4 separate regions of the Homo sapiens genome follow, and all the other regions are linked to region 4. The links come from fine-mapping of genetic effects on gene expression. A gene starts in region 4. Each other region holds a variant in brackets. All regions are shown on one strand. Distances are from middle to middle. Region 1 overlaps CRACR2A (calcium release activated channel regulator 2A). Region 2 overlaps CRACR2A (calcium release activated channel regulator 2A). Region 3 overlaps CRACR2A (calcium release activated channel regulator 2A). Region 4 holds the start of CRACR2A (calcium release activated channel regulator 2A).

Evidence for each region. PIP is the estimated chance that this variant, and not a neighbour inherited with it, causes the effect. A credible set is the group of variants that fine-mapping cannot tell apart.
Region 1: its variant is the best candidate, but not a certain one, in a credible set for the expression of CRACR2A in NK cells (Schmiedel 2018, PIP 0.70).
Region 2: its variant is the best candidate, but not a certain one, in a credible set for the expression of CRACR2A in blood mononuclear cells (TOPMed, PIP 0.89).
Region 3: its variant is the best candidate, but not a certain one, in a credible set for the expression of CRACR2A in whole blood (INTERVAL, PIP 0.86).

The regions. Positions count from the first base shown.
Region 1 is chr12:3,709,336-3,714,491 of GRCh38, reverse strand. It overlaps CRACR2A (calcium release activated channel regulator 2A), which reads left to right. Exons shown (of 20, transcript NM_001144958.2): 3 at 1,175-1,255. Among named protein-coding and RNA genes, the nearest start is that of CRACR2A, 41 kb to the left of the region's middle. The variant A/GAGA (reference allele first, on the strand shown) is at 2,848.
Region 2 is chr12:3,726,022-3,731,177 of GRCh38, reverse strand. The region is part of intron 2 of CRACR2A (calcium release activated channel regulator 2A); the gene reads left to right. It also overlaps the pseudogene RNU6-174P. Among named protein-coding and RNA genes, the nearest start is that of CRACR2A, 25 kb to the left of the region's middle. RefSeq lists a silencer at 2,242-2,341. The variant G/T (reference allele first, on the strand shown) is at 2,860.
Region 3 is chr12:3,623,842-3,628,997 of GRCh38, reverse strand. CRACR2A (calcium release activated channel regulator 2A) reads left to right here. Exons shown (of 20, transcript NM_001144958.2): 16 at 1,292-1,373; 17 at 1,448-1,562. Among named protein-coding and RNA genes, the nearest start is that of CRACR2A, 130 kb to the left of the region's middle. The variant A/T (reference allele first, on the strand shown) is at 2,544.
Region 4 is chr12:3,751,014-3,756,126 of GRCh38, reverse strand. It overlaps CRACR2A (calcium release activated channel regulator 2A), which reads left to right and starts at 3,018. Exons shown (of 20, transcript NM_001144958.2): 1 at 3,018-3,112. RefSeq lists a silencer at 2,784-3,283.

The sequences.
Region 1 (5,156 bases), 42 kb after region 4:
TGCTGAGGGCTGCTGCCTGGGAAAACACCAGAGAGTGAAGTCTCCCCATTTGTTTGCTTCCAGCATCCTGGTAGCAATGCCAGTGGAGCAGGGGACAGGGGTGCCAACAGGTGGCTTAGAGAGGGGGTTATCTTGCTCCAGCACTTTTCATTATCTAAAAGTGCTTATTTGGTCTGTGTATTTTTATTTGTCTCTGCCCACTGGAATATAAGCTCCACAAGGACAATACCTTGCTGGATTTGCCTGTTGCTGCCTTTGGCACCTAAAAAAAGTGCCTGCACAGAGTGAATATTCATTGAACAAATGAATGAACATGAGCGCTGTGTTACCTCATATAGAACAGGAAACAGCTGATGAATATTTGCCTCCCATGAATTGTGCATATGAGAGGCACAGAGGCCAGCCTCCTTGGTGATATACATCTGGACTTCAGGTCTAGCTGTGGTTTGAGCTTTGGCATTATACAATAGATAATCCCAATCCCCTTTTTGTAATCACTACTGCTCCCTTCAGTCATTTCAAGCATGCTCTCAGACCATGCTACGCAGCATGTGGCCAAAGCATTCTGTAAAATTGCTCTCCAGGTTCAGTCGTAACACTCCCAAACTGTCCTGTGCAAGGAAGCCCATCCTCTCCCTGTCCCTAAGCCTGTCCCTCCTCCATCGTTTTTCAGCTTTCCCTCCTTATGTAGCCCCTAGGCTTTCTTGTACATCCTACTGCATTTCCTTCTCAGGGAAGGCAGTGATTCTTGCCACAATGCTTACATCGCTATCTTCAAAGGTGAGCTCCTGTGGTGTAGACAGCGTCTGTGGATTGGGTGGAAAGAATTTCAAGAGCACTTGCTGAGAGCTGGAGCTCTGCTGGGGGCAGGGGGGCAGTGTCCAATTAACCCTGAGGCTACCCCCTTCTCATGCACAAGGGCCTGCTCCCATCAGGCTGGACATAATCTCTGGATTCAGGGTCACTAAGCAGACTTATCATCGCTATTCCTTCATCTTCCCTCCTCTTCTCCAAAACCTGGAAGAGGATGAATTAGGCCTGTTTTCTTCCAGAACACTGCAATGCGGTAGGAGCAATGTTTCCTCCCAAGTTTTTCCAAAATTGCTATAAAGCCACTTCTGTTGTAACCCTCAGTGGAAAATAAGGTGTGATTCATCTCTTGTGTGTTTCCTAGGTGGAATTCAAGTCACCAGTGGCCAAAGTACCCTCCAGGTGTGAAGAGTTGCAGGTCCTCCGAGGAGCCGGGAGCTGCAAGGTGAGTGAGCGAACAAAAGGCGACAGGTTGCAGAGTACTAGATCTGCCCCCACCCCAGACCCCAACTTCAGGCCCTGCCTTGTTAGCACTATTGTAGCTGTTTTTTAATATTCATGAGGATCAGCAGTGGGCCCTTAGATTTGAGAAACAATTCGTCAGCCTTCTTGAGGACAGTTTTAAAAATACTAGATGATGGAGGGTCTATTCCACCTTGTTGGAGTATCACTTAAGTTCATTTAAGGGAGGCCTCTGGGAGAGGGGGTTTTGTCACTTTGCCCAGCTCTTTTACATGTGGGCACGAGGGTCTGGAAGCCTCCAGAGAGGGTCTGCTAGCCCCTCTCTGCAAAGAGCTGCTCCTCAGCCACTGGTCACTCACAGAGCCAGTTCCACTGTGGAGCCTGTCCAATCCTGATTTCCCTGCTGTCCAGCCTCCCTTGGCAATGAGGAGGGTGTGTTTACTTTGGTGTACAGCATCACTGTTCACTTTCACATCTGCTGTCTCATTTCAGCCACTTCCCATGGGATAGTAATATAGTAATAGTTTGGATATTTGTCACTGCCCAAATCTCATGTTGAATTGTAATCCCTAGTTTTGGAGGTGGGCCTGGTGGGAGGTGATTGGATTATGGGGGTGAATCCTCATGAATGGCTTAGCACTATCCCTCATGGCTTGGTGCTGTACTTACCATAGTGAGTGAGTTCTCATGATATCTGGTCATTTAAAAGTGTGTGGTACCTCACCCCCAACTGTGTCTCTCTCTGTTGCTCCTGCTTTGCCATCTGACATGCAAGCTCCTGCTTCACCTTCTGCCATGAGTAAGAGCTCCCTGGGGCTTCCCCAGTAACCAAGCAGATGTTCGCACCATGCTTGCATAGCTTGCAGAACCATAAGCCAATTAAACTTCTTTTCTTCTTAAATTACCCAGTCTCGAGTATTTCTTTATAGCAATGCAAGAATGACCTAATACAGATAGGCAGGGAGGAAACTGTTATCCCCACTTTAAAAAAAAAAATGGCCAACTTCCCAAGGTCACAGGGTGGCAAAGTTCACACTTGAACTTTATTTTTGATGCCTGAACCTTTCTATGATACTATGGTTCTGCTAGCCTCTTGACAGATGGGGTTGAGACAGGATGAGAATAGGGAAGGCAGAGGGAATGAAGACTAGGGGTTTGATGGGGAAATAATTGGGAACTGTTGGCTAAGATACCAAGTGGGGTTATCTCTGCAGGCTAGATTCATTGTTGTCTTTGTTTTCCTCTCATTTTCAACCAGCCACTAAAATCCATGATAATAATATGCTATCCAAACTCATAGTGATTCATACAAGAAAGACTATGGTTTGGAGAAAATGTCAAAATTTAGCCCTTTGGATGGCCTTTTATTCCACCTCAGTATAGCATCTTGTATGTTAAACTCTAACTAATACTGAATTTGTTACCAAGTGCCACTGTAATAAATACCTAAAAATGTGGATGTGGCTGTGGAATGGGTAATAGACAGAGGCTGAAAGAATTTTGAGGTACATGCTAGAAAAAGCCTACATTGCCATGACCTGACTTTTAAAGGTGGTTCTGGTGAGGGCTCAGAAG[A/GAGA]AGAGAAGAGCTGTAGAGAAGGCCTCAATCTTAAAGAAGATGTAAGTCATCCTGAACAGTACACTGGTGGGAATATGGATGATAAAAGCCATTCTGATGAGGTCTCGGATGAAAATGAAGAACATGTTATTAGACACTAGAGGAAAGGCCAGTCTTGTTATAAAGTGGCAAAGAACTTGGCTAAGTTGTGCTCACATCAGTGTTTTGTAGAAGGTAGAACCTGCAAGTGATGAAATTGGATATTTGACTGAGGAAATATCTAAGCAAAGTTTAAAGGAGTGGCCTAGTTTCTCTCGACTGCTTAAAGTAAAATTTGAGAGGAGGACTATGACTTAAGATGAAATTGCGAGTCAAAGGCAGAGAACTTAAAGACTTGGAACATTCTCAGCCTATCCCTTTAGAGATGGAACATCTGTCGTGCCCCTGTCCCATCATTGTTTTTGGAAGCACCTAACTTGTTTGATTTCACAGGTTCACAGCTGGTGAGGAATTTGTCTTAGAATGAATAATACCGAGTCTCAACCATATCTAATTTACATGATATTTACATGAGATTTTGGACTTTCTGCCTTTGAGTTTATGCTAGAACGAGTTGAGACTTTTGAGGCTGTTGGAATGGAACGAGTGTATTTTGCATGTGAGAAGGACATGAGTTGGGGAAATCAGGCTTGGAATGCTACGGACTGAATAACTGTGTCACTTTAAAACTCATTATGTTGAAACTTAACCTCCCAAGTGGATGATAGTAGGAAATGGGGCCTTTGAGGACTCTAATGGGATTAGTGCCCTAATAAAAGAGGACCTAGTAAACGTCCCATCTTTCTTTCTTTCTTTCTTTCTTTTTTTTTTTTTTGCGGTGGAGCCTCGCTCTGTCGCCAGGCTGGAGTGCAGTGGCACAATCTTGGCTCACTGCAACCTCCGCCTCCTGGGTTCAAGCGATTCTCCTGCCTCAGCCTCCCGAGTAGCTGGGATTACAGGCACGCATCACTATGCCCAGCTAATTTTTGTATTTTTAGTAGAGACGGGGTTTCACCATGTTGGCCAGGATGGTCTCCATCTCTTGACCTTGTGATCCACCCACCTTGGTCTCCCAAAGTGCTGCAATTATAGGCTTGAGCCACTGCGCCCGGCCAACTTCCCATCTTTCTTACCATGTGAGAACACTGTGAGAAGTTGCAATCTGCAACTCAGAAGAGGGCCCTCACCAGAACCCAACCATGCTGGCACCTGATCTCAGACTTCCAGCCTCCAGAACTGGGAGAAATAAATGTCTATTGTTTATAGGCCATCCAGTCTATGGTATTTTGTTATATTAGCTGGAATAGAGTGAGATATTAAATACTGGTAAGACTTAGCACAGACAAACAGAAAGGGCATGCCAGATGACTGAGCTATATATTTGAAGATGCTGAGGCACAAAAAAGCTGAGAGAACAGGAAATACTTTGGAAGGAAGTGAACGTGGTAGGAGAAGAGGGAGATGACTCCAAAGAAGTAGTAGTGGTCCTGTGTGTTTAAGATTGACACTGAAAACAACAGGGAGGCATGATCAGGTCTGCATTTTAGACAGGTCTTCCTAGCAGTGTTCTTAGGGCTTTGTTTAACTGTTTTCTGGAAAGCAGTTTAGTAATACACATTAGGAGCCTTTAATATGTGCATACAAAATGCCTCTGGTTCAATCATATTATATCTGGGAATGATAATAATAACAATCAGCTACCATGTAGTCCATATTGTATCAGGTATTTTCGATATGCTGGGTGCATTATTTTTGTTTAATCCTTACAACAATTCTGCAAGTAAGAATCATTAGCCTCATTGTACAGATAAAGAAACCAAGGTTTTATTTACTTTCTAATTTTTTTTCTTGAGACGGAGTCTCGCTCTGTCGCCCAGGCCAGAGTGCAGTGGCACAGTCTTGGCTCACTGCAACTTCCACCTCCCGGGTTCAAGCGATTCTCCTGCCTCAGCCTCCTGAGTAACTGGAATTACAGGCATGTGCCACCATGCCCGGCTAATTTTTTATTTTTAGTAGAGACGGAGTTTCACCATGTTGGCCAGGCTGGTTGTGAACTCCTGACCTCAAGTGATCCATCCACCTCAGCCTCCCAAAGTGCTGGGATTACAGGCGTGAGCCACTGCGCCCAGCCAGAAACTGAGGTTGTAAAGAGTCAGGCAGACTTAAGATTGAATTCATGAATTAGCTGTTTTCCTACAATAAATTACTTAACTTTTCTGAAACAGCTTCCTGTGGTGCTACTATAAAGAATAATGCAAAGCAGATTTAAAGAAAACCTCCTCTTTATTGGA
Region 2 (5,156 bases), 25 kb after region 4:
GCTGGGCCCAACTAGCTCATTGCCAGGCAATCCAGAGAGAGTTCCAGACACCAGATACTGAACAACCTACTTGTCTCCACACCTAGTAAAGCTTGGATCCAATGCTGCCAACTTTTCTGCCTCTCCAGTTTTGGAGCCCTTAATGTGAAGGTGCAACCCAGAAGCCTGCAGGCTGTTCGTAGCCTGTAGATGTGTTTTCTTCCCAGTAGCTGGTGTATACAGTGTTTTTGTATTATTTTTCAAATAAGCAATACATTTGTGTGGTTCAAAAATTAAAGCGCTATAGAAAGGTATTCGGCGAAATCTTATCCCTGCCTCCATTGGCCAGTCCTGCCCTGCCCCTCCCTTGTAACCACTTTTATTAGTTTCCTATACAACCTTCCAGGATTTCTTTTTGCAGATAAAAGTCAGTACAAATATATATCTGCCTCATCCCTCTACTTCTTACATAATTATAACAGACTCTACACACTATTTTTAACCTTGCCTTTTTCACTCGATTTATCTTGGTGATCTTTCCCTCTCAGTATGTGGAGAGCTTCCTCATTCTTTTTTTACAGGGGCATAGTATCCCATTGTATGGATTTACCATAATTTAGCAATCCCCTACTGATGAACACAGGTTGTTTTTAGTCATTTGCTGTTAATATTACAAGAAACACTGCACGGAATAAACCTGCCATTTCATGTTGACCCTGAACGTGTGTAACATTTAAAAATTCTGAAAAATCTTTGAATAATCAACAGAACTGGAAACACTCAGTTCTAGTATGTGGACAACTGGTTGGGTTGGGTAGCAGCTGTCCTTTTAAAGAGACCTCCCTGCCCCGCTCTGGCATCTTCCCCACCACCTCTTGCTGACCCTCTTGCGTTCAGCCTGAGCGTTGACTGCCATCTAGCAACATTGTGCTGTTTCTCTCATAGAGTATTAAGGAGGAAGGGAAATCACTCATGTACTCATGTCTCTTCAAGGGGGAAACTGAAAACCAAGGAGGCTGTCTTTTTCCAGCAGAGGGAGGAGGGCAGACTTAATATGAAAGCGATTCTTCTTCATCGGCCCCTGCCCACTCGGCCCATTTCTGTTAATCTTCTGTATGCTTGAGATTGCAGCCCCTGCCTTGCCATGTCCAGGCTTTCATCTCGGGAGCTGAAAAGTGGAAGGGAAAGAACTCTGCTCTCTTCTTGCTTTTGTGCACTATCTGAGTAATTGCATGGAGACCAGCAATAAAAATGAAATACAAGACAGTCAGAAGTGTTGCTCCATTACATGGATTCTCTCAGCAGACCCCCCAAGGCAGTGGTAGCACTAGCTCACTTTTCCAGACAAGGAAACAGTAGCAGAGTGAAGTGGCTTCACCAAGACTCATAACTCGCACACAGAAGAACTAGGATCAGAACCCAGGTTTTTCTGTCACTAGAACCTGACATTTTAGCCAATCTATCATGCTGCTCCCAAAGTCTTTTTGTTTTTTCTTGAGACAGAGTCTCGCTCTGTCACCCAGGCTGGAATGCAGTGATGCAATCTTGGCTCACTGCAACCTCTGCCTCCCGGGTTCAGGTGATTCTTCTGCCTCAGCCTCCCAAGTAGCTGCGACTACAGGTGCACACCACCACATCCAGCTAACTTTTGTATTTTTAGTACAGATGGGGTTTCACTATATTGGCCAGGATGGTCTTGATCTCTTGACCTCATGACCTGCCTGCCTCGTCCTCCCAAAGTGCTGGAATTACATGCATGAGCCAGCTTACCCGGCCCCAAAGTCTTTTTAAATAAGGAGTGGTTTACAGTTAAGCCTCTCACCTTCTAAGTCTGTCATTACTGATGCTGTGGAGATGATAGTCGTGACAAAGATAAGAGCAGCTCTGAAAATGGGCCAGATGGCTACATACTGCAAAAAAGGTGGGTGACAATGCGTCTGTGGTCTCATAACTAACGTGACGGCTGTTCCTTGACAGCTTTTCCCATTTCATAGAGTGGAATTGGCTCCCCTGCCCTTTTGCTCTTTCAATCCAAGAACATGTATTGAGCACCTTCTGAATGCCAGGCACTGCGCTCGGTGTGAGTGACAAGCCTGGTGCCTGGAGGCTAGTTCAGGCAGGTCAACAGAAAGCTGCAGTGCCACCAGCTACATGTGGTATTGGTGACATGGATGCGTTGGGTTGTGTCCAGAATGTGACAAAAGAGACAAATACGCCATGGAGCAACCATGGACAACAAGGCGAGTGGCTTCCAGCTGTCTTGGGTCCTCGTCATTTTACACTACTTGATGAAGGAAGGAAGTGGGACCCAGAAGTGGTGGCTATGAGCTAAGGTATTGAGCCATCCTTCTGCCCGCAGCCCAGGATGAACATGACCACAACTGGCAGCTCTCTGGAGGCCACTCGGGGTTGAAAGGTGGGCCAAAGGAACCCTCCCTCCCTTTGCTGCTCCACCTCAGCTTTTCTCATTCCTGGCCATTTGTTTATCCTGTAAGCTGGGGGCTGGGGGTCTCCCAAAGTATCACTCATCCTGAGAGTTAGCATTCTTCCAGCGGGGCAAAATCCTCTTCCCTACTGAAGAAATTCTAAACCCAGCCAGCTGAAAGAGGAAGAGTGCAGGGGTGAGGGGAGGATGGGACCAAGAGGGCACATTCCACTTGATCTCTGAAGTCACACCTCAGCAACGGGACTTGCCCGCCAAGGCTTCTCGTCACCATGCTTTGTTGGATTTGTAATGTGCTGTTTATCTCTCTTCTCCCGCAAGTTTGCATGCAACAGCATCTGTCATCTCTGTGGTTATCTTAGAACAACTGGGGCTTTTGCTTTTTATTTATTCTTTCTCTGAGTGCAGTGCTAACCACAGCAGCCTACGGGCAGAGG[G/T]GTTGGGGAGGGAGTCAGTTGCTTTTCATTGAAGTGCTATGGTCTTCAGCTGCAGCTGGTGTGAGTGCTGAAACTGTGTGAAACAAAAGTGTTGAAACTCAGTCCCAAGTGACTTCTGGGGATCCGTTGCCTGTGTTTCCTATGGATGAGTAATTAGAAACGAGTGGTTTTCAGGTTGAAAAGGAGACTCCAGAGTCCTGATGGAATACAGACAGCAGGCACGTCTAGGGCCACAGACAGGTATGTGTGCTGCTCTGTGCTGGCAGCTGTGTGCAGATACAAAAGAAGTATCCCATACCCTCCTTGCCCTCAAGGAACTTAGTGACAGGAAGGAGAGCAAAATTTACAGTTGGCCTACCCTCTTGGGCCTGTTTCCTCATTACAGAAATGAATGAGGTTACACTTGATCAGTATTCCTTATTTTATTTTATTTTTTTTTTAGATTCAGGAGGTACACCTGCAAGTCTGTTACATGGAGATATTGCATAATGCCGAGGTTTGGGGTTCTAATTAACCCATCACCCAAATAACGAACATAGTATGCAATAGGTAGTTTTTCAGCCCTTGTTTGGCGAGTGTTTCTAATGGGGTCAGGCTGTCCCCTAGAGTAATGCCTCTCACACTTTCAAAGAAGTTAAGCCAAAAGCCCGGTATTTAGGAAATGGTTGTTTTAGGAAGAGAAGCCTAAATGGAATAAAGACAAAACCTCGAAATGACGAGATGATCTCCCTGCTTCATGCATTCTGTCTAGATCAGAGCATTTCCAAATATACACTGAACTGAAAAGGGCACAGTACAATATGCAGTGACCGCAAAGCAAGGAACCCATGCGCAGGTCTGTAACAGGAAATCTGAGACTTCATCCAGCCGATGTAGAATTAGATACTAGTTTAAATTAGCAGAGGCGCCTCAAACTTGTTTATAAAAGCTGTTTTAAAAATAATATTCTTATCACATATATTTATATTTGTAGTACAATGATAAGAAATCTCTTGCAAAAATTAGCTATCATGGTTACTTCTTTGGGGTTGCCTTTTGTTCTTCCTTCTTACTCTGATATTCTCCTTCAAGATTTACCCAACAACTTTTCCCAATCCATCCTCTTCTTCTCACCGCCCATACTATAAGGATGTCATTTTAAAAGCTTTTTTTTTTTTTTTTTTTTGAGACAGAGTCTCACTCTGTTGCCAGGCTGGAGTGCAGTGGTGCGATCTCAGGTCACTGCAACCTCTGCCTCCCGGGTTCAAGGAATTCTCCCACCTTAGCCTCCCGAGTAGCTGGGACTACAGGGTGTGCCACCACGCCCGGCTAATTTTTGTATTTTTAGTAGAGACGGGGTTTCACCATGTTGGCCAGGATGGTCTCAATCTCTTGACCTTGTGATCCACCCGCATTGGCCTCCCAAAGTGCTGGGATTGCAAGTGTGAGCCACCACGCCCAGCCACTTTTTTTTTTCTTTCTTTCTTTTCTTTCTTTTTTTTTTCTTTACTGCTAAAGACCGAATATATGCCTCAACACAGTGGGTGGGATTTCCAGACTGGAAACATGTTTTCTGTGACACTTTGTCACTATCCTGCCCCATATCACAGCGTAATAAATTATCATGACGCTACACTTATACGTAAGACTGAGCTCACGAGACAGGATCCTGTGCTTCCTTGTTTCCTCTGCTTGCACATTTGTAATTTGATTTGGCTTGTTATCTGTACCTCAGTGAAGGTTATTTCCTTCTTCCTGTTATCATATACGGCCAGGAAAGGGGGGTAACTCATTGTAACACTTCTTTATTCTATTGTCCTCCTATATCCCTCTGATCTTTTATTTCCTTGTACTTCTTATATGAAGTGGCTTCTATTTGTCTTCTGTTAAATCTAAACTTAACCATTATAGGTAGGTGGAAGTGTTGACTACTTCATTATGTGTTCCAGTGCAGGCATGCATGAGCACGTACATATTGACAGACATATTATTTTATTAAGAATCACATTTCTGTGCTCACTTTGGCAGCACGTATACTAAAATTGGAATGATACAAAGAAGATTAGCATGGCTCCTGCACAAGATGACATGCCAAGTGTGTGCTCGCTCTCTCTCTCTCTGTGTATATACGTATATATATAAAATATACATATAGTATGTATTTATATATATTAATCACATTTCCTTTTTATCCTTTTATTAAAATTAGGGCTACTTTATGCGTTTGGGTCGACCGACTTTTCTAGGAATTGTATTTCAGGTGGTAAAGATGGTGTTTCTAAATATTTGTTACAAAAATAGGGCATTGATTGGATAGG
Region 3 (5,156 bases), 130 kb after region 4:
CTGGCCCTCATCTGTGAAGCAGAGGGCCTCTAGACTCCCTGCTGCCCCTGACACTCTGGAAGTGGATGGTCCTCCCACGTCTCCTCACTCGTGGGTCTTAATGCACTAGCCTTTGCCCAGCGGCAGTGGCTGGGATGACCGTTTCCATTTACTGCCTCTTTGTTATCTGTTTGGTCTCTTCTGTCTCTATCTGTCCAAGCTGCTGTTGCTGTTTGTCTTCCTGAGCCCTCCAGAGGCCTTTCTGAAGGTTGCGGGAGATGCCCTAAAGTTCTAAGATCTGGAACTTATGGTGGTGGTGGGGGGATGTACTTTCGAACCTCTTTATGCCTTTGCAAACATTCTTACAGGATGCAGGAGTGGGGAATACCTGTATCAAAACACCTGTGTTGAGGTCCTGACCTATGAGGGCTGCTGTGGGATGCAGAATGCACTTCACTGACCTTGCCCCCTCTCTCTGGGGTTGAGGACCCCAGGTAGGGTCACACCCCTGGAGAGATGGTTGTGAACAGCCCAGTGGTAGGATTAGGAGCTCTAATCCATCTCAAGGGTGAAAGTTGCCTGTGATTTTTTCTCTTACCCCTTCTGTTCTGTCCTTTCCTCTACCTGCCAGTTCCTACCCTCCTCCTCCTATTCCTCCTCCTCTCCTTCTTCTTCCTCCTCCTCCACATACCTTTGGATTGGTTGATGGAGGCCATACCCCTAGGACATTTGAATTTTACTAGGGGGCCTCTGAAAGAATTTTAGGAAAGAAGGAAAGAAAGAAAGAAAGAGAGAAAGGAAGGAAGAGAGGAAGAGAGAAAGAGAGAGAGAGAAAGAAAGAGAGAAAGAAAGAGAGAGTTGGGGGAGAGGGAGGGAGGAAGGGTGAAGGAAGGGAGGGAGGGAGGGAAAGAGAGAGGGAAGGAGAGAGGGAGGGAAGGAGAGAGGGAGAGAGGGAGGGAAAGAGAGAGAGAGGGAAGGAGAGAGGGAGGGAAGGAGAGAGGGAGGGAGGGAGGGAGGGAAAGAAAGAGTGTATGGCTTGTATTACAGTGAAGAGCCCACAGTTCAGAGTGGTTAAGTGATTTGATCAATGTTCCACAGCTAATAAGTGGCAGAGACAGGACCAGAGCTGAGGTCCCATGCCTCCCCATCCAGTGCTCTGTTCTTTTCTCCATTTTGCCTCCCACGAGCTGCACATGGAGGGTTGTCACCTTGGGCCTGATGTGATTTCAGATGTTGGAAGCATTGTTTCCTGATTTGGAAGTGAGGTGCCCCTGGCCCAGGGCAGCCCTGACAGGCCCATTTCACCCTGCAGGCATTGATTACCGTGTGAAGACGTTGAATGTGGACAACTCTCAGGTGGCCCTGCAGCTGTGGGACACGGCTGGGCAGGAGAGGTGAGGAGCTGCCCGAAGTTCTGGGCTCCAGAGGGAAGGCCGTGCATGCCTGACCCGTGGCCCTTCTGTGGCAGGTACCGGTGCATCACCCAGCAGTTCTTCAGAAAGGCAGATGGTGTCATCGTCATGTACGATCTCACAGACAAGCAGTCGTTCCTGTCGGTCCGGCGGTGGCTGAGCAGCGTGGAGGTGAGCTGGCGACCTTCCTAGGAGCATTTAGGCTTGACTGTGGCTTCTTTTTTCTTCTCTGTCCATCTCCCACGTGGGCCTCTGCATTTTCAAAATCTGATTCGGAACTTGCCTTTTCCAGGAACAAACTGATGCAGGCATGTGTTCCTCTGTTCGTCTGGGTTCCCAGTACCAGGCCAGTTCCTGGGGACCCAGAAGTGAACAAGACAGACACAGTCCCTGCCCTCATGGAGAGAGGGACACTGAAAATCCAGATTATGCCAGTAGCTGTGTCATTGCTGGGCCATGATTGAGTGGGACTGGATTGGGGGAGGGGACACAGTGGAGTGTCAAGGAAGGGTCCTGGAGAAATCAGTGTTTGAGTCACAACCAGATTCTTCCCTCATTCTCACCAGCGTCTCTCCCCATCCCCTGAGTCTTTCCAGCTCCAGTAGGCCCAGCTATGCCCTGCCCGGGAGCCACACCATGCAATGTTTGGGGGCCTCTGTCACAGCTCTTCACACAAGGGGAGGTTGATCCAGAATGTGAGGGCTCCAGGCTCACCTCAAAATCAAGAGTCTTGGCAGGGCCCAAGAGCAACTGTGTTATCTTTGCATTCTGAATTATCTGGGAGACTCTATGTTTATGATTCCTACTTGCAGTATGTCGTTTTGTACATGCTTTTTTCATTAGTGTTTCCACCACCCCAGTGCAGGCTTCTCAAGGCCACTGCCAGTGTGGACAAGCTACAAATTGCTTTTTGCCAGGCCTCGGCTGATTCCTTCACAGAACAGCCAAGCAGGATGTCCCGCCCCTTCCACCAGCAGGATTCATGGTTTGTTCACGTATTTGTTCAAAACACCGGCAGGCACTATTCTAGAGCCTGGGAATCCTAGCAGTGAATAAAAGAGACAAAGCTCCTGCCCTCATGAAGCTTATGTTCAGCTCTCTGCTCCAAGCCCATAAAACCTTGCATATCCCATCACATATTTATCATGCTGC[A/T]ACAAATTGCTTATTTACTGGCCTGTGTCTCCCACTGGACTCCGTGCTGCCTAAGAACAGAAGCTGCATCTTCGTTGCTATAACCTGGATGCTTTGCATGAGACCAACAACTCCTGGATGAATGAATGGATACCACATTGCTATGAAGGCAGACTCTTGGAGTTGTCCATTTCTTTGACCCTTTTGGCCCTAAGATCCATGATCCCTTTCACCCAAATCTGTTTCTCTGTAGTTTTGCATGTCTGGGTCACCCGTCTGTCTTTTGTTAATCTGCATCCTTCTGATTACCAAGAAAAATAAGGAACAAAATGGAAGCCAGATTCAAGGGTTTCTCAAGAATTTGCCTACTACCTGTTATTTCTCAAAATTACTGTGCCTGACGCACTTACAAATGAGAAAATGCAAGTTTTGAAATGTAGGTAGTAGATTGCCTGTACACCAAACTAATAATGGAAGCAAATGGTATGGGTGAATCCAGCAGTAATTCCTTTCTAAACTTTGGAGTTTACGACACGATCTTTCTCTTCTGTTCTTTTTTTTACTTTTGTTGTTGTTGTTGGCAGCACCAAGCAGATTTATCTTCTTTGCAGAAGTTAAGCACCAGGAGGGATGTTAGGGATTACCTAATCCAGGGGTTTCCAGACTCTCTTCCTTGGAGCCCTGGAATCAGACTGACATTCCCCAGAGATTGGGGAGCGGCAAGGGAAGGTTTAGTGGTCACGGATCCAGGTCCCTCATCCCCCATCTCCGTCAGAGCTGCCTTGCCTTTTTCAGCATATTGGAGGTCAGCTACAATTTTGTTAGACAAAAGAGTTTCCCTTTGAAAATCTCCCATCTAGTATGGCCATCTCATTCAAAAGTGAAGAAAGGGAAGGCCTAACTTCTCCAGGGTCACCTGTCCTTTTCACAGACATTTAGTTGTCCCCCAGTATCTAAATTTTGGTGTGTGCTAGGGCTAAGCCTCCAGGTGGTCTGGGATTAATGGGAATGGATGGTGACAAATTTGGGGAACTACGCTCTCTGCTGTCATTAGGGGGTGTCGTTTCTAAGGCTCCTGTTTTGCACAGAGCCTGGGATCTAGAAGAAGAGGTGGAACAGTTTGGTGGTGGAGGTGAAGACATCTCAGAAGACCATCATCACAGCTTGAAGCATCAGTTTAGTCATCCTCCAGAGACGTTGCTTTGTGGGACGGGGCTGAAATCATCAGCGGCGTGTGGCTGCTAAGAGGCCCACGGAAGCCTTGGTGTGTCTGTGGGCTCGGGAAGCCTGGCTGAGATGGCAAATCTATACATAGTTAAATCAGAATTGCTTATGTGTAAACAGGGCTTTTCTATATGATTTCTAGTTTGAGTTTTTCCTTTTTTTTAAGATATTAGCCAAAGGTACATTTAAGCTCTAATTGATTATTCTAAACCTGGGTGAACATCAGGATCACACGTGGAGCTTTTAAAGGGAACAGAGGCCAGGGGCCAGGGCCTTCTCTCCCAGAGTGGTTCAGAGCCTGCAAATAAAAAATAAAACGAACAGCTCCCCAGGGAATTTTGATTCTCAGCCACCACTGTTCCCGGCTAAACAAGCGCTCCTTGAACCCTAACATATATAGGACTCTCCTGGGGAACTTCTTAAAATGCAGTCTCTGCTTCAGCAGGTCGGGACTGGGGTCTGAGATTCTGTGTTTCTAGCAAGTTCTCATGTGAGGCTGATGCTGGTGGTCCAGGGATGACCCTGTGAGTAGAAGAGCTCTAAGTCATTTCCGAAGATGCCTGTGACCCCTCACCAAGGTTTTACTACACATCTGCGGCATGTCCAGCACACACTAGGAGCTCTGGGACTCAGTATGATAGACCAGGCAATGCGTTCAGTTCAGCAGCACAGAGTTTCAGAAACAAGTGCAGGAGGCTGTGTCAAATGGCAGAGTGTGTGTTGAAGGTGTGGAACGGTGGCATCATAAATGCAATTATTCTCTAGATTCTTGAAAAGCTAAGTCATTCTGCCTTGGCAACCAGCAATCAGAGGTGTCAGGTGATAGATTAAAACTTGACACCTAATTTGATCTGAGGGGAACTGAAAATAATAAGTACCTTATATTTGTGGAGCACCTTATTTTTCCAAAGAGCTCTGAGCACTTTACCAACTCCCTCGCCTGGAGAAGGGAGGGTGGAGGGGGAGCTTTAATAACAGTCTTCAAGGTTCTGAAGCCTTATTAGTAAGTGAATGGTGGCCAGCTGTTCACAGTCCCCCTTCCTCCCTCAACCTGAAAAGCATACAAGAAAAAAGGGCTTCAGTTGCTGTACATGCCTGCATGGGAAAGACTCTTGGAAGAGGTTGTGTGGGGTGGGAACAGATGCTCGGGGGAGGTAGTGGAGTTCCCTGAAAGGAAGTTCTTACTATCCCATCTTGATCACTTCCTGGCCATGAAACTTTGGCCAATCATTCAACAAGGCAGCAGACCAAATGCTCCCTCCTGGCCCCTAAATTTCTACAGTGTATGATGGCATTTGACTATCTCTCTGGGAGGCCAAGACGGAGCAGGAATGTGTGTGGATGAGGAGATTCTGGAGGGTCCTTCCAGCCCAGAGGGAACCAAAATCCTTTGGTGCAAGAGAGCACCAG
Region 4 (5,113 bases):
CTAGCAGTGGCCTCTTAGGGTGGCAGGGTTTGCAGCTGCTGTCTGGGGCTACAGGCCCTGGTGCTAAACCAAGGCCATCCTCCCACCAAGGAGCACAGTGGTAAGTCATTGGCAGCTGGGCAGGTTGCACAGCTGGGGAGGATGACCCAAGTGAGCTGAATACTGGCCAAGGTCCTGTTCTTCTTTCACGGCTACCCTGCTTCTGTCACAACCCCCATCGTACTGAACTGCAGTTGTCAACTCCCTGGCTGATTCCCTGTGAAACAGAGCTCCTAGGGAAGAGCCTAGGTCCAGACCAGCTGTACAACTTGAATGGTCCAGTGTAAAATACAACTTATATGGCCCCTTGTTCAAAAATTGTTAAGATTTCAAGAAGGTGGCAGGACAGCATTAAACTCTGTATGAAGCCCTTCTAAGTGAGTGGCCTATGTCAGGGGTCCCCAACCCCAGGCCACAAACCGGTAATGGGGTACTGGTCCGTGAACCCTATTGAGAACTGTGCATGTGAGGGATCTAGTTTGCACACTCCTTATGAGAATCTAACTAATGCCTGATGATCTGAGGTGGAACAGTTTTATCCTGAAACCATTCCCACCCCCCACTCCCACCCCTGGTCCATGGAAAAATTGTCTTCCACGAAACAGGTTCCTGGTTCCAAAAAGGTTGGGGACCTCTGGCCTATGTGACTTCATAGGTCATATGCCCAGGAAGCCAGCCTTGCCTCGGTCTTATTCGTCACCTAGAGAGAGCTCAATAAATCCTCATTGAATAAACGAGTTTGGGTTTCTCCTGCAACACTGAATCATGTAATCATGGGGAAAGAGGAGGTGGAGATCCTCATCCTTCCCATGGTCCAGGCTAGCTCCATAGCCTGGGGCCAATCAGTGAGTATCAACTGTGCCTCAGTTTCCTACATCCATACATTGGAAGAACCATCTTTTCCCTGTCGCTTTTCTGCCACGGGCCAAGAGTAAAAGAGGCACGAATGTACAAGCTGAACTTGCAGCAGTTAATGTGATGGCTCTGTGATTCTGAAGGGCACCATGAGGCGTGGTGTTCTGTTAAAGAAAACGCCAGCAAATTAGAGACATCCCCATAGAAGCCAGAAGATGTGGTTAATGTTTGCAACATGAAATGTCTAGGTGTTCTGAGGTGGGCTAAAGGACAGTTGCTTTTCTTCCCTATTAAATAGGTGGTTAGACTCAGACACAAGGGAACAGGAAGCAGAATGGCATCAGAGACAAAGATGACTGCATGGAGTTTGGTGAGAAACCATCCTCAAAGCAGCAATTTTTTGGATGAGTCTCAGCCTTTCTGAGCCTCTGTTATTCCAACTGTGAAGTGATACAATTAACAATAACAAAAATTTGATAAGAGCAAATACATTTGGCATTTTTAATGAACCTACTACTATTCTAAGCCCTTTAAAGATACACATTTATTTCGATTCATAGAACACCCCATGATGCAGGAGCTGTTACTATCCACATTGTACTGATGGAGAAAGTTCCAGTAACTTGCCAAGGACGTAGCTGGCAAGTTGGAGCACTGAGATTCAAACCCAGGGCTTTGGCCTCCAGAGTCTGTGCACTAACCACTGTAATACCTCTGAGACTGTAAGGGGCAAATGAATGACAACGCATTGATTTAGAAGTGAAAGGCGATCTAAACGTGCAAGTATTAACACTATTAAAAACAACAATAACAATGGTAGGTACCTCCGATGCCTCTGACCTTATCTCTCTGGTCACAGTTTTCTGCTCTGTAAAATGGGTGGGCAGGCTTTACACTGGATAATCTCTGAGGCCCCTTCCACTTCTCAGATTCTGATAATGAAATGTCCTTCTTTCCTCACATAAGGCTGAGAGAAGGTCAAGCCACCAGCTTGCAGACCTTGGGAGTTGACACAGGGAAGCATACCCAGGACAGAGCCAGAAAAGCCAAGGCACGCAGTAGGGACACACCAGAGGGCAGGCCTCAGAGCCCCTGACAGCCTTCTGAAACTCTGGCAGGGTGGAGGGAGGTTGTGGGCTAGTGGCTGGCTGGGCTGCAAGGAGAAGAAAGGACTCCACAGAGTAATTTATAACAGCTGCTCAGTAAGTGCTAATTTGTTTCTCTCCACCTTGGAATAGGACTTAGCGCGTGTGAGAGGGGGATGCTACTACATAAACCAGTACCAGAAAGATGGGCTTGCCAGGAAAGAACTGGGGCACTCTGCAGGGGCAGTGTCTGGGGAAGGGTTCTCCAAAAAGGTGACATTTCAGAGGGGCCTGGATGGATGAGTAGGATTTCAACAGGCAGAGATGAAAGGGGAGGGTGTTCCAGGCAAAAAGAAGAACTCCCAGCAGCCATGAAGAACAGCTGGTGTTTGGCAACAGCTAGTGTGTCCAGAGCGAAAGTGTTGTGTGTGTGTGAGGGAGAGAGGGTGAGGCTGGAAAATTAGGTTGTGGCCGGAGAGGGCAGGGTGGGCCTTGCCTTGTGCGCTAAGCTGAGGGGTTATCCTGCAGCCGGAGCACCTCGGGAGGCCTTTGAAGATTTACTCAGTGCTTTATTAACAAATACGTATTGGGTTTTTGGTGTTTTGTTTTGTTTTTAACGATTCATGCCCACAGTAGAATATATAGAAGAGTCAGAAAAGTATAAAGAATAAGGATCCCCTTTAGTTTCTGCTCCCAGAGGTAACAGCCGGAGTGACGCCGGGCTGCTGCCGGGTTTTCGGGGGTGCACTCCCAGACACCACCTCTCCAGTGAGCCAGCGAGGGCCGGACTGATGCCCCACCTTGGGAGCCTGAATCGGGGCAAGGGGCCTAGGGAGCAGCGGGACCCCGGAAGCCCGACCAGTCAGGCCGGCTAAGTCGGCAGCCGCCCCGCCCTCGCCACCCAGCCTCCCTGGCGGCCTCAGGTCGCGCCTGCAGGCCCGGACCCCACCGCTTGGCGCGCGCACGTCCCGGAGGGCGTCCAGGGGGCGCCGCTTCCCGTTCAGCTCCGCTGAGGGGCTGGTCCAGCCCGCGCGGCTCGGAGCGGAAAGAGTCGGGCGGAGCAGGCGGCTGCTTGACAGCTGAGAGCCGAGCGGGCGGCGCGGGCAGGTCCACGGGAAGCCTACACGCCCAAGGTAACGTGGAGGAAGGTTGAGGGTGGGCGGCCGGGGCGGCCGGGGGGCGGCGCTTCCTGCCTGCTCCTCCGGCTGCGAAGTGTGAGCGCGTGTCTGCCGCACATGGAACTCGCAGAGGGCCTGGATGGAGGCTGTGTGCCCTTGGGGGGGAACAGCTGGCTCCCCTGCCACCCCCAGGCCTGGCCTGGCCCTTGCTCCCCTCCCTGTCACTCGGTAACGGGACTGGAGGAGAGCCGAGAAGCACTAGGGTTTTGGTCAGGAAAGGACCTTAGGAACCCTCCAGCCTCATCCAGCCTCTTCATTTCACAGATGAGGAAACTGAGGCTCAGAATGGTAAAGTGACTTGCCCAAGGTCTCAAGTCTAAGAACCAAAACTCCTACCTTGCAGGTCAGTGCTACTAGGAGCCCTGGCCACGCAGGCAGCATCCACAACTGTTGCCATGCCGAGAAACAAAGAACCGAGACAGACAGTCAGAAAGACACAGAGAGAGAACCTCCCAGAGCAAAGGAAGGAGGTCAGGAAGTGGGCGGCTGCTGGGGCTTGGCTTCCGCCCTGGCCCCCGCGTGTGCTGGCCTGGCTGTGTGGCTCAGAGGCGTTGTGCTGACTCTGTCCGTGTGTGTGTGTGTCCGTGTGTGTGTGTGTCTGTGTGTGTGTGTCCGTGTGTGTGTGTGTGTGTCCGTGTGTGTGCGAGTGTGTGTCTGTGCACCCATGCATGCACGGGATGCAGCGAATGTACCCTGCCACGTGGGAAAGCCCTCTGAGTTCATTTATCTGTTTACACAGTGTGCTTAGGAACCTGCCCTGTTTGGCTCTGTGGAGGACACCAGGAGTCTCAAAGGAATTCGTTCTGTGTGACTCAAGAGGACAGAAAGAGCCAATCCGTGGGAGTCCCCAGGGTGGTCAGAGGGTCAGGAGGAAGAACCTAACTCATGAGGTGATGGGTTCCTTGTCTCTGGAAGAAAGCAGCATGTACCGAAGAGTCTTTTTATCAAGGATGTGGGCATAGGGATATGAAATCAGAGCAGTTTGCTCCACGTGGAATCAGCATTTTTGTTGAAGGGTCCAGAGTTCATGCCCCTTTTCAGGTGAAATGAATATGTACAACCTCATGGTTTAGTATTTGCCCATAAGAGCTACTTCATGCGCAGTTTTTAAGTGATAAGTGAGAGGCTTCAGGTATGGCTTCCGAGGTCCTGTCACCTCTCGGTTCTATAAGTGAGAGGCTTCAGGTACGGCTTCCGAGGTCCTGTCACCTCTCGGTTCTATACTATAAAGTGTGTAGAGGGAGTTTGGAGGAGGGAGGTTACTTCTGGAAGGAGTGACTCGCAGAGGGCGTCCTGGATGTGGCACTGAGGCCGGGCCTTGAATAGGAGGCTGGGTCTGGGCATCTTGGGGAAGGACGGCTGAGCAAAGCCGTGAAGGTGGGTTGTACCTGAGGAGCAAGGAGTAATGTAGTGGACAATCCGGTGAGGAGTGCTGCCTGGGAGAGATGGCAGAGGCTTGGAGTGTTACGAGTCTAGAAACTTCATTATTAAGCCTAGGGATATTTTGATGGTTTCTAAGAAGGGAAGTGTTGTTCCTGGAGCTGGGTTCAGAAGAACATGTCATCTGCACCTGGGTATGGGATGTACTGCAGTGGAGGAAGCTGTGGGAAGAGAACCTGGGAAGAAGCCCATTGCAGTCACCATGAGGGGTTGAACAGGGCTGGTGGGAATGGACAGGAAGGGGCTAAAAGGCTTGGGGGTAGGGGAAAAGTCATCTGCCATGTGCCAGGGCCTGTGGTAGGAGATTTTCATGTTTAATCTCATTTAATCCTCCTGACAACCTCATGAGGAGATTGCTATGATTGTTCCATATTGTAGAGGAGGAAACTGAGAGAGAGGTTAGGTGGTTTATCCAAGGTCATACAGAAAATAAGTGGTGGGATGGGGATTTTAACCCAGAGAACAATGGAGTAGATGCAATCTGGTAACTGAATAAATGTCAGGGACCAGAGCAGA